Regions from separate parts of the Homo sapiens genome. Here regions 1 and 2 are each linked to region 3. Evidence: fine-mapped expression QTL. A gene starts in region 3. Each other region holds a variant in brackets. All regions are shown on one strand. Distances are from middle to middle. Region 1 overlaps FAM13A (family with sequence similarity 13 member A). Region 2 overlaps FAM13A (family with sequence similarity 13 member A). Region 3 holds the start of FAM13A (family with sequence similarity 13 member A).

Evidence for each region. PIP is the estimated chance that this variant, and not a neighbour inherited with it, causes the effect.
Region 1: its variant is fine-mapped to the expression of FAM13A in monocytes (Quach 2016, PIP 0.95). The same link has a PIP of 0.9 or more in monocytes after LPS.
Region 2: its variant is fine-mapped to the expression of FAM13A in whole blood (INTERVAL, PIP above 0.99).

What each region holds. Positions count from the first base shown.
Region 1 is chr4:88,820,699-88,824,945 of GRCh38, forward strand. The region is part of intron 7 of FAM13A (family with sequence similarity 13 member A); the gene reads right to left. Among named protein-coding and RNA genes, the nearest start is that of FAM13A-AS1, 110 kb to the left of the region's middle. RefSeq lists enhancers at 1,918-2,605, 2,606-3,292. The variant A/T (reference allele first, on the strand shown) is at 1,733.
Region 2 is chr4:88,931,484-88,935,730 of GRCh38, forward strand. The region is part of intron 5 of FAM13A (family with sequence similarity 13 member A); the gene reads right to left. The region is part of intron 1 of LOC105377327 (a long non-coding RNA gene); the gene reads left to right. Among named protein-coding and RNA genes, the nearest start is that of FAM13A, 120 kb to the right of the region's middle. The variant A/G (reference allele first, on the strand shown) is at 2,327.
Region 3 is chr4:89,054,861-89,059,107 of GRCh38, forward strand. It overlaps FAM13A (family with sequence similarity 13 member A), which reads right to left and starts at 2,325. Exons shown (of 24, transcript NM_014883.4): 1 at 2,078-2,325. The coding sequence starts at 2,104. RefSeq lists an enhancer at 1,626-2,188.

The DNA of each region.
Region 1 (4,247 bases), 230 kb before region 3:
TAGGAAGCTTGTTAAAATGCAGATGCTCTCTCTGCTACCTCCAGATTTGGATGCAGTGAGTCTAGGGAAGGAGGGCAACAGGAAGGATTTGATTTGAAAAATAAGTTCCTTAGGTAATTCTCATGCACTCAAAGTATGAGAAGCATTGAACTCTCTGCTAAATACAAACAGTGAGCATGAATTTCTTTAGCTGCTATTTAAAGCTATTCTTTTACACATCCAATTTCAATGTAGTTTCTATCCCTTGGTGCTCTTAAACAGAATGGAACAAAGCACTCCTTCCAAGAATACTGCTAAGGCTCTGGAACCTTCCTGCTTCAGGCCCATAACGGTGGGGAGAGTCCGCAATAGTCATCATTACCACGAGAGTCACAGAAATCAATAGCCAAAGATACCAAACTGGGATTTGAAGAAACAATTACACGTAAGGGCGGGAAAGTTTTCTACACAAATGCTTAAATTCACAAGGCACGCTTAACAAAGACAACCGCACAAACCTGGTCTTTACCTTCAGGAGGTTTATAACCAAAGGTAGGTACAGGCTGGCAGTAAAGATTGCAGGGAAATCAGTCAAATTAAACTCTAAGAGCTGGGTAAACATTGCGGCAGTGAATGCACGTAACAGCGCTCTTCAGAATGGTAATGCAAAGAAACAAAAGTAGCAACTCAACATTCTTGAATGCAAATTCAAATTATTCCTGCATTTATTCCTACTAGGTTCATTAATCATGACTAAAAATACAAAATAATTTACAGGAAATAATGATGGTTTTATTTTAGCTTTAATCGTTTTGATTGCCTAAACAATGTTTTAACAGTATAAAGATCTATTTTCTTCTTAACAATTATTAGAGCATCACATGGCTGGCTATTAGAGTTCAGTAGTAGCCAATATTCTTATCTAGAATACAATTCGCTTAAAACCCTTAAGAACTGATGTCATTATAAGGGGAAAAATGTCTCCAACTTTAAAGTTGGAAACCAAATCAAGACTCCACAAAGTGTTTTAGTCTCTCACAAGCTTTAAGCATGTGGACATTTTCACTGAGTTCACGTAGAAAAATTTTAGATATATTTGTAAACCACTTTCTGCTCCCTTGGATTCTTAATTTTTACAAAAGGAACTCTTTGGACACCCCCATCAGGTTCCCATGACAGTGTCCTTGTTAGTACAGTGAAGGAAAAATGACTATACTGTTTTATCTCACTGTAAGTATCTGTAGAAACCATTTTGCAAATAAGCAATGTTTTAAAGCTTATTTTTCATTGCTAAAACAAAAACATTCACTGAAATATTTGTGGCATGGTTTTTAAAAATGAAATTAGTTTTTGTCTAGTTTTTTTTATCCTTAAATAAACCACATTTACTATTTGATTTAAAATTTTTTTTTTACTAATAAAACCTTCTATAGTTTTCCTAAATGAAACATTTCTATGGAATGAAATGCCACTGCATGTAAAGCAGTTGAAGTTGAAATAGGACAATATGATTAGCAAAGGTAATGTTTAAAATCCTAAAATGTGACCTTGGGCAGCCCTGAGGCCCTCTCCATGCCTACATTCTTCACTTCTTAGTTCACAACAGTGTTCTTTTTCATAAGACCCTTTGTTTAAATTTACCTTTCTCTGCTTTGGTATAACTCCTTCGCCTCCCCCCAGACCCACAATCTATATTATAATCACGAAGGAACAAAAACAGTCTTGCACTCAATCATTCTTACTAAGCAGTTTT[A/T]AAAAATGCTATTTGTGTAATAAATCTGTCTGGAATTATTGAAGGGGAAATGTTATCCTTAACATTTATTCTCACATATTATGATGTACTTATTCATGGAAAATCCTTGCCTAGATCTGAACTCCAGAAGAGAAGAATCTTGTGATGCATTTTAAAAGGTCTTCAGCCTATCAACATCCTTTAAAATAGCCTTAGCAGGAACACTGCTAAGAAGCGGATTCAGTTTTTATTATAAACTCGCTCATTATACTTCTCAGTCCATGTTTTTCTTCAGATTTCAAAGGTATTTTCTTATATTCATTTCCATTCAGAGAAGGATATAACTAAATACAACAATCAAGTGAAAAAGATAAGTTGGGCAAAATGTCAGTAAAAGAGCAGTATAATATTTAATTTTTTCTGTTCTTAGGGAGGAACCATATGTACAACGGACTCTACACACTTTGCAGCATGTTACTAAAAGATGCCAAGTACTGGCAAAGTTATATGGCTTGATACAACTCAAAAAATACATAGCAGAATAAAATAAAATAGGAAAATACTACCTTTGCAGAGGCATGATTTCACAAGCCATTCTCGTATGTAAATTTGCAAGGGAATCTCACAACTGTCTCTTCCACGGCAAGTTTGGTCGTCTGTACAGTGAACGTCTTCTTACAGTGGCTAAGCTGGGTTGGGGGCATGAGGCTGCACCGCACGGCTGGAGAAACAACTTGCTCTGCAGTTGGCCAGTCTACTGCTGCTCTCAGCCTCCAAACTTCTTCAGGCAATGCTATTTTATCGGCTGCTTCTCTACATTTACACTGCAGTCCACTTTGACCTTTTGTTCCAGGGAAGCAGCTGAACCACCGGGCCAATCAGAGCAGCAGCTGCTGCAGCACTAAAGGCGCTCCTCCTCCTCCCCCGCACCCTACTCCTTCTGCTCCTCAATGGTCCCTCCTCCTCCTCTTCCTCCTCCTCCTTCTCTCCTCCTGCTCCTGCTCCTCAGTGGGCTTGCCTAGTTCTGGTAACTTGAAACTTTCCTCTGAGCAGTTCCACAGACAAGATTTTCAGTCTGGGGCAAGCAACCAATAACTGCAGCAAGAGCCAAGAGTCCTGTACTTCTCAACATTACAGAGACTGCCAGCAAGGATTCCATTTGTCAAGGAAAGACACTGCCCACGAAACTAAAGGTTTCTGTAGCAGAAGGCAAGAGTTATGTTGCGTCCCCTTTCTTCCTTAAAACAAAACAAAACGAAACAAAAACACTAGCCTTGAAAGGAGTGAGACTTTTCTAGAAGGAAAGCATGCCTCTAGACCCTTGCCCTACCCACATGTATTTCCTGCTGATGTTTGTTTACACTGCGGTGGTTACTAGTCGCTGGTGACATCACCCAGCGCACGTAGCTCCACTTCTGGGGAGGATACGTGCCCTAAGTCTCTGCCCAAGTTCTTAAGGGATCAGAATCCACTCTAATGAAAATTGTTTCAACTTACTATTTCTGCATTTTATTCTTATAAAACTGAATGTGTTTACACAGTTATTTTTCTCCATGAACATCAACAGCATTTTGGGGGGGTTGCTTTTTATTTTTATTTTTTTTTATAGGTAACACAAAATCAGTTTTTCCATAAAGTCTTCTAAATATTTGTTAATTATCACCTTCCCCTTATAATTTCTTCTTTGGTGTAGAATACCAGGGTGTTATTTTTAGGAACATAAATCCTAATCCATAGATTTTATACATTTTAAGAAAAATAGCAGAAATATATTTACATGATATTTTTTTCACATCATGAGTTGTAAAAAATTACAACATAGTCCAGACCATCACTTCTAGTAGTAGAAGGAACATGACATTCAGAAACAGTGAGGGCTTGTAGGCATGAGGTATCCCCTTCCCCTGTAATTTTTCCCCAATTTTATATAGATCACTCATAATTCTGAATTTAGAACACAAGGTCCTATTTATTATAAGACATCTGCTTTTCTTTGCTATACCTGCTAATAAAAACATTTTCATTGTCTGACTAAATAATCTGTGTTTATGAAAATAGATTTGCCATCCTAAAACTATCATCATACATAATGATAAACTATCAGTAACTAAAATCAGCCTTTTAAAACAAAAGGAGTTGATTTAACCCCAAACTTATTTCAACTGAAATTGTCTATACTTTTTTGATTCTAGATTTACAAATTCTAATTTGATTTTCTAGTAACATAACTTAGTTCCATATATTTCCATACCATTTTTATTTTAAAAAATCACTTTAACTCTTGCTTAACACTTTATTATTTATTTATTTATTTTTGAGATGGAGTCTTGCTCTGTCACCCAGGCTGGAGTGCTGTGGCACAATCTTGGCTCACTGCAACCTCCGCCTCCTGGGTTCAAGCGATTCTCCTTCCTCAGCCTCCCGAGTAGCTGGAATTACAGGCGCCCGCCACCATGACTGGCTAATTTTTGTGGTTTTAGTAGAGATGGGGTTTTACCATATTGGCCAGGCTGGTCTCGAACTCCTGACCTCAGGT
Region 2 (4,247 bases), 120 kb before region 3:
TCAAACCCTCTCCTTACTTATCTCTGGTGTTTCCCATCTCTTCTCTGGTGAATCCTAGTGTCTTCTCCTAGACAATCTGTTCAAAATGTATCTACTTACTATTCTGGTCCCTCTCTGTGAAGGAGACATATACTACTGGGTCTATTCAGCCATCTTGATCTCAACTCTATGATCTGTCATGCTATTTAATCATTGCATTTTAAAAATACATCATTTAACTTTTTTTAACCTCCAAATTCAGAATCTACCTAAAAATTATAACTCACGATCAAAAGAAGGATTTGTTCTGAAGAAAGGAACAAATGAATTCTAAATAAGTGCCACCTCTGAGTTTCATAAATGCTCAAAATGATAACATATAGATTTTGGTGGGTACAAGCTAGTCATTCTCACTATGTAAGTTTACCTACACAAAAGGAGAGATAATACAATCAGATTACAAAGAAGCAAACAACAAAAAGCCAAAAACATCTTTTATTTCCTGTTATAACTCTCCTGCTGCTCAGAAGGTTCTAATATTCTTGAGGGGCTACAGAAGAGGTTAGGAATAGTGAAGACATATAGGAGTCAGAAGAACAGAGTTCAACTACTTTCCTGACACTGACACTAAGTTGCTACAGTACATACTCATTAAATGAAAACACATATAAAAGCTCATGGCACTGATGGCCTCAGTTAAATCTCTAAGATTTTGGTTATTTCTCTACTTTGCCTCTAATCAGTACTTTCTTGATTTCAAAACCCAGCTCTGTCATTTACTGTTGTGTGATCTTAAGCAATTTATCATTACATTTCCTCATCTGTAAACCAGTATTAAGATCAATTACTTGTGAGGTTACTGTCAGTAGTAAATGAGATACATATATAGAAGAATTTGGCACAATGTCTAGCATAAAGCCCTATTCTCCCTTTTGCCCCTGTGTTCCTACACTGAGTTTGTTTGTTTCTTTTAGACTGTAAGGTCCCCCAAGGACAGGGACATGTCTTATTTATTTTCTGAAGCTCTCCAGCACTTAGTACAAAGCTTTGCCCAGAGTAGTTTTGCATTAAATAAGAAAAAAGTGAATAAACATTTGTTGAAGTTAATTGTGCTTAGGCTGTGGCCCTAAATGAAAATGGAGACACATGCAATGTTTTTGAGCATGAAAAAGATATGGGAAATGGTTTAGGAAGTTTCTGTGATATATCAGTTTATATGGTAAGTGACTTTGATTCTACATAAACAATATTAAATTTTTTGACCGGAAAGTCAAATACACAAAAAAATGAGCTTTGTGGTCAAACTTGCCATAACATTTATTAATGTGGGCACTTCCTTCGAACTAATCGCTATGGAAGGCCATTCTAATATTTTGCTTTGCTCAGAGCATTTGTTAGTAACTGTTTTGAGAGTTTGCTTAAAAGTCATATAAGAAAATCAACATAATTATTTTATAGCCAGATTTAAATTTTAAACCCAAAAGTTAACATATAATCAGCACTCCTCAACTTAGTGATATGCCATAGGTTAAAATGACTATTGATTACTTCCCACAATCAAATAAAGCATTAAAGTACGAAGATTTCCCAGTCCAATGATATACAGAAAAATATGGTATATGAATGACATATATATGCTCTGAAGACAACTTTAAAATTCCAAAAGATATAATGAGCAACAGCAACACTGTCTAATAAAGAAAGTCTTATAACATGTTTATCTGGAATAGGCTCATATTCATCTAGATATTTCTAGATAGATACTTAGCAATATGCTCATCACATTATTTTATAGGATGCATATATATGAGGTTTGCATGAACCCTATTACATATATATTCATAACTCTTATACACAAACTGGACAACAAGACAAACCAGGCTCATAGACTACTGTCCCCCTCAATATCTGCCACCCTTCTGGGTAAATTCAGGGTCAATAAGGAGAAACCATCAATATCTTTATCTCCCATCTCTTTGCCTTCTCCTTTCCCATAATTTTCTCTTCTCCTTCACTTTAGTCCCTCATGCTCATAAACCCAATCTAAGCCTTATTTTCACTCCAGATAGCTCAACCTCCAAAATCAGTAATGCAAACCTCCTATTTCCTGTTTTCAGCCCCTATTCTTCTAGCTTGCTTGCTCATCTACTTCTGCCTCAAACATTCTTTAGCCTAACTACAGTCTCTAGTACCTCCTTTTGTATTGCTGTTGTATATCCTAGCTTACCTTCAGATCTTCTCATCACCTTCATTACCATCATCCATGCCCAATTTACCATTGTTTTTACCTGGACTACTGTAATAAACTCCTAATACATTGCCCTACTTCTGCCTATCCCTTTCAAGA[A/G]CCTAGTAATCTTTTTAATACAGAAGTCACAACGTAGCACTCTTCTGCTTAATACTGACTAATAGCTTCACTTAGAGTAAAAGTCAAAGTCCTCAAAATGATCTATGAATAGACACAATCTGCTGATCCCTTGTTTCCTTTGTGGCCTCATTTCGTTTCAATTCCATCTTGCTCATGGTAATCCAACTGTACTGGCCTCTCAACTGCTCATCAGACCAGGTATATTCACATCTCAAGACCTTTGTACTGCTCTTCTCCTTGCCTGGAATACTCTTCTCTCAAGTGTCTTCATGGCTTGCTCCCTTGCTTCCTTCAAGTCTCTACTCAAACGTTTTCTTGTCAATGAAGCATTTTAACTGTCCTATTTAAATAAGCAAAGGCCAATCCTCTACTTCTGCCTTTCCCTGCTTTATTTTACTTCACAGAATATATCACCATCTGACATACTACATATTTTCTTTTCTTTTTTATTGGCTGTTGTTTAGTGTATTTCCATGAGAATATAAGAATCATAAGAGCAGAGATTTTCATCTATTGTTCAGTATGCCTAGAACAATGCTTTGCTCCTAGTAGGCACCGAATAATTATTAACACTTGGATTTAATGAATTCAACGTATAGTCCATGGTCCATTATTTTATCCATACTTTTCTCACTAAATTTTGTGTATGTAAATATCTGGATGATTAAGTTATTTCTTGAATGGGGCTTCACTAGTGTCTGGATTTAGAACACCTTCTGAAGAGAAAATCTAGAATTATCCTGCAGCTGGAGAAATTAGACTGTGGCTGTTAGATGCCTACTGGAAAGATGTGCTTCTCCTAACCCAGTTATTCAGAAATACAGCTGTAACCTTTCATTTTGACAAAATAAAAATGTTCCTATGTAAATTCCCTTCTTGAAACCTATAAAAACAAAACTAATGAAAGAGAGAAAAGAAACCTCCAACTTAAGTGAAGTAAGAGATGGCCATAACTGTGGACCACTGACTGTGAAGACTATTTGCCAAATTCAACAAAATGTAGGCTAAAATGCCAAGGGCCAACATATACATTCTCATATTTCTCCAAATGTCACAGGGCTAAGAGGTCTATCCAAAATTTCCTTCACTGGAGTAACTAGATCTAGTCAACATGGCCAAACCATTGCAGAATCTGGAAAAACTCTGTAGGGACCTAGGTTCACTCCCAAAGAATGGCAGGGAAAGCAAAGTTGAAGGGGAAGTCATACTGACAAAACTTTTCCCCTTATTGTTACCTTGGCCTTCAGACAGAGGAAGTCTGTCTTGAAGTGAGGCTGATGAATGTGCTGTAGATGCCATGATCAATTTTGCAGCTACTGACCAGAGTCAGCTGAACAGAAACAGACATTAGGCTTTGATAGCCTATGACAGAAAAAGACTCCATCTTCCAATACTCTGGTCAAAGTTCTTTATCTAGGTCCAAATACAACCGAACATATTTCTCTGGGCCCAAATCTCCGTTTCACATGCAAGAATATATAAGAAACTTCATTCAACACTTTATGACTCTGTTCTCCAAACTGGGATATACAGAGGTATGTCAGTGTTTATGTTTAGTCCTTTTCCCCACTTAAAAGCCTTATATCTAAGTCATTTACATGAGACTTGCCTTATTCCCAACTCATATATTTTATGTCCCTGTTACTCTTGGGTCTTTATCATTTACTTTGCGCCCATTTCCTATCTTTATATTCATCCTTCCAAAAACTGAACTCATATGAAAAAATGAACAGAAAGATAACTTTTCTTTAATTACCTTCTCATTTTTCTTCTTTTTCAGTATATTAATAGTTTCATTCTGAGATTCTCAATTTCTTTTAAGCCCATCTACCTTTTAGTTTCTATCTAATGTTTCTATGATCTTTACAATTTTCAAAAAAGTCTGTTTTCTAAGCATTGT
Region 3 (4,247 bases):
CAGGGAAACGCTGTCCCAGGCCATGCTCTTTGAACCCATTCATTCACTTTAAAAATTATTTACTACCTCTCTAAAATTACCTGCAGCTCCCTACTTCTCTCTTCCCCAAAAAGAAGGCATTTAAGCTTCAACCACCTGGCCCTTCTTTGAATCTCATATTTGAGGGGCTCTCATATCCATATACATATTAATAAATTTGTAACTCTTTTTCTCCTATTAATCTATTGCCAATTGTTTCAATAAAATTGCAGAAAGGGCAGAGGAAAAGCTTTCTCTTCACTCCTACACAAAGTAAAAAGTAGTGTATCAGCTCATTGAATGTATTAATGTGTGACTTAGTTCTCCCTTTTTTGTCACGATGTTTAAAATTTTTTTTGTTGTTCTCCAAAAGCTATCTTTTTCCAGATATGCTATGGTACAACTGTTGAAAATGTATTTCCTCCTACAGTAAAACCAAGACAGCACAATCAAAGGCCAACCTTAAGGAGAAGGGTAGAAATGATTGAGAATTACTCATCTACCAGAGTGAATAATCTCTTACACTGTGTGATTTTTATGTCAACTTTAACTGAAATTTTATACATGCTTTGGATATAAATTAAGGGAAAATATAAAGTTTTATACATGAGTCAGTGTGCATTCCAGTCAAGGTAGAGATCAATATATTGCAGGTCAAGGGAAAGAAGTAAAGATCTAATCAGACAATCAGAGATGACTACCAATCTTCATGACCTATCTGCTGCCTCATTCTACACATTTTCAGTTCTGTATTGTTTCTTTTATAAAGCTAGAAAAATAGAAGGGCCACCTCTGCAGTAAAGTAAAAGTCAGTATTTTACACATAGATAAATCAGATTTTGAAGGAAACTCTTTGGGGTGATAAAAAAAGAATAACCACATGGATACCTGGATGCTACTAAGCCTCAGAGTTAAAAGGAAGACAGAGTGACATACATGGTGCTGAAAAGTTTTGAGCCTGGAAACAAGGTCATCCTGCAGTTTCACTAAGAAAACTTAATCTATAGGGCTGGTCTACCATTTGGTGACCATTTGGTGACCATTTGGTGTCTGTGTGTCAAAAATTGCTCAGATATTTCTAAACACTTCAGAATGCCATCAGAAGCTACAGCAAATTGCAGCTCTTTCTGAAACACACACAAAAAAAGAGGATCTGGCCTGAGTGTGATTTTTTAAGTGAGCAGTTAAGGTGATAATAAGGAAGAAGATATTTCTCATTTAATACATTCTAGAAAATAAAATGTCCCTATGGAATACAATAGCAACTTGAAACATAAATATGTGTAATTCTCATACAGATATATGCATTTTCTATATAGTACAATCAAAATTTAAATTACAGCATTCTGCAAATTATATAATTGACAATTTTTGATTATTACAAAAGGTTTTGTACAAGCACCAGCAGAATAATTTAGAAATTCATAAATTCTAAAAATTCTAAAACTCCAGAAATATGCACATTTTCCCAAGGATTTTATTTCAGTGTTATTTATTAATGCTACTGTGTTATAACAACCATTCATTTCTACAGTTTAAGGATACACAAACATTTATCAACTGAGCTTCTCCACCATCACTTTCAGCAATCATGCTGAAACAGAAACTCCAGAATTACTAAACGAAAATAGAAATATAAAACAGAAAAATGTCACACACATACTCAAAAGTAATAAATTAATGGTTACTTCAATTCCTCCTCAAGCTAGCCACAAGATTTCTCTAATAGCTATAATGAAGCATTCATGTTTAACTATTCAGGGACAAGAAAGTCTAAAATGCTTGAAAGTGCTCTACTTTAAATCAAGTTGACTTAACGGAATAAATCAGCATGCATCTTTCACCTTTTTTGGAAACTAAAGTGCACAAATATGCTGAATGCCATCCCAAATCCTGCCTAATACCCATTTAAGTAGATAGGAATTTAAGTAACAAATCTTTCCCCACCTCCTGGGAAGGAAAAATAAGTTACACAAACATCTCATCAAAACAAGGAAGGCAAGGCCCTCTCCTAAAAACTGGCAGTAAACACAGAAGACAGAAGAAGGCCTATACTTACACAGATGGCTAGAGCTCCTGCCCCCATTCTCTCAGAAAGCGTCTGGAAGAACTGAGGAAGACCAGACGAAAATATTAAAACGACAGCAAAATACTAAAATTCCATTCAGCACATATTCTTTGATGTGAAAAACAGCTCCCAATGCAAAGGCCCCAAGGTAAGCGAAGAGCAGCTTCTAACATTTTAGGAAGAGTGGTTTTGCTTCTCTTTCCGCTGAACCCACATGGCTGGAAGGACTGCCTGGAGTTGAAATTTGATCCACAGCCTCAGTGCTGGCAAGTAGAGGGAGTCACGTGACACGGGTCTTAAGTCGCTGACATCTTTTTTTCAAACCTGACTCCCTAGATCCTACACACAGGCTTCTTTGACTCCGAAAACTGCCAGTCACCTGGTGGCTTTCATTAATAGAACCAACAGTGCATAAAGTGAAAACACAGACTTGCTTCCCAGATTCCACACAGCTCTAAGCAAAATGTACGTATTCAGACTCAGGTTTAAAACTGCAGGCACATTATTCATTTTTTCTGAGGCAGTTTTCTCTTCTACTCTTCCTTAGAAACCAGCTAAATTCTACCAAAATTTTCTTCCTTCCATGCTACCCCATCAGAATTGTTTTAAATGAAAATGCTCTATTTTATGTAGCCGTTACTACTTCTAATTATGTATGAGTTGTCTTATAAAAATATACTGATGATAAACATAAACAACATACTTCTAGACAACCATAATTCTACATATGTGATTTGCAGTCTGAAAAATTAGCTAACTGACTTTTCAATAACTTTCTCTTCCACATGCTGTCACTAGAAAATTTGATAGATTTTAAAATTTACAAATATTTGAACTAATAGCTAAAATAGCCACTTCAGGTAAGCCAAAAGGAAACTATCCTATTTTTATTTTTGTTACCATTTTTTCTGTCAATTTGTTTTTCTTTTTTCTTTTGCTGTACCTATTGACCCATCCTCTAAGTTCTCTCCCCTCACCCCCAACCTCCCAACAGGCCCTGATGTGTGTTGTTTCCCCTTTGTGTCCATGTGTTCTCAATGTTCAACTCCCACTTATGAGTGAGAACATGTGGTGTCTGGTTTTCTGTTCCTGTGGTAGTTTGCTGAGGATGACGGCTTCTAGCTTCATACATGTCCATGCAAAAGACATGATCTTGTTCCTTATTATGGCTGCATAGTATTCCATGGTGTATATGTACCACATTTTCTTTATCCAGTCTATCATTGATGGGCATTTGAGTGGGTTCCATGTCTTTGCTATTGTAAACAGTGCTGCGATAAACATATGTGTGTATGTGTCTTTATAGCAGAATGATTTATACTCCTTTGGGTATATACCCAGTAATGGGACTGCTGGGTCAAATGGTATTTCTGGTTCTAGATCCTTGAGGAATCTCCATACTGTCTTCCACAATGGTTGAACTAATTACATTCCCACGGACAGTGTAAAAGCGTTCCTATTTCTCCACATCCTCTCTAGCATCTGTTGTTTCCTGACTTCTCAATAATTGCCATTCTAACTGGCTCGAGATAGTATCTCATTGTGGTTTTGATTTGCATTTCTCTGATGATCAGTGATGGTGAGCTTTTCTTCATAGGTTTGTTGGCTACATAAATGTCTTCTTTTGAGAAGTGTCTGTTCATATCCTTTGCCCACTTTTTGATGGGGTAGTTTGTCTTTTTCCTGTAAATTTGTTTAAGTTCCTTATGGATTCTGGATATGAGACCTTTGTCAGATGCATAGTTTGCAAATATTTTCTCCCATTCTGTAGGCTGCTTGTTCACTCTGATGATAGTTTCTTTTGCTGTGCAAAAGCTCTTTAGTTTAATTAGATCCCATTTGTCAATTTTGGCTTCTGTTGCCATTGCTTTTGGCATTTTTGTCTCTGCCCATGCCTATGCCCTGAATGGTATTGCCTAGGTTTTCTTCTAGGGTTTTTATAGTTTTGGGTTTTACATTTAAGTCTTTAATCCATCTTGAGATAATTTTTGTATAAGGTCTAAGGAAGGGGTCCAGTTTCAGTTTTTTGCATATAACTAGCCAGTTTTCCCAGGACCATTTACTGAATGGGAGATCATTTTCCCATTGCTTGTTTTTTGTCAGATTTGACGAAGATTAGATTGTTGTAGACATGTGGTGTTATTTCTGAGGTCTCCGTTCT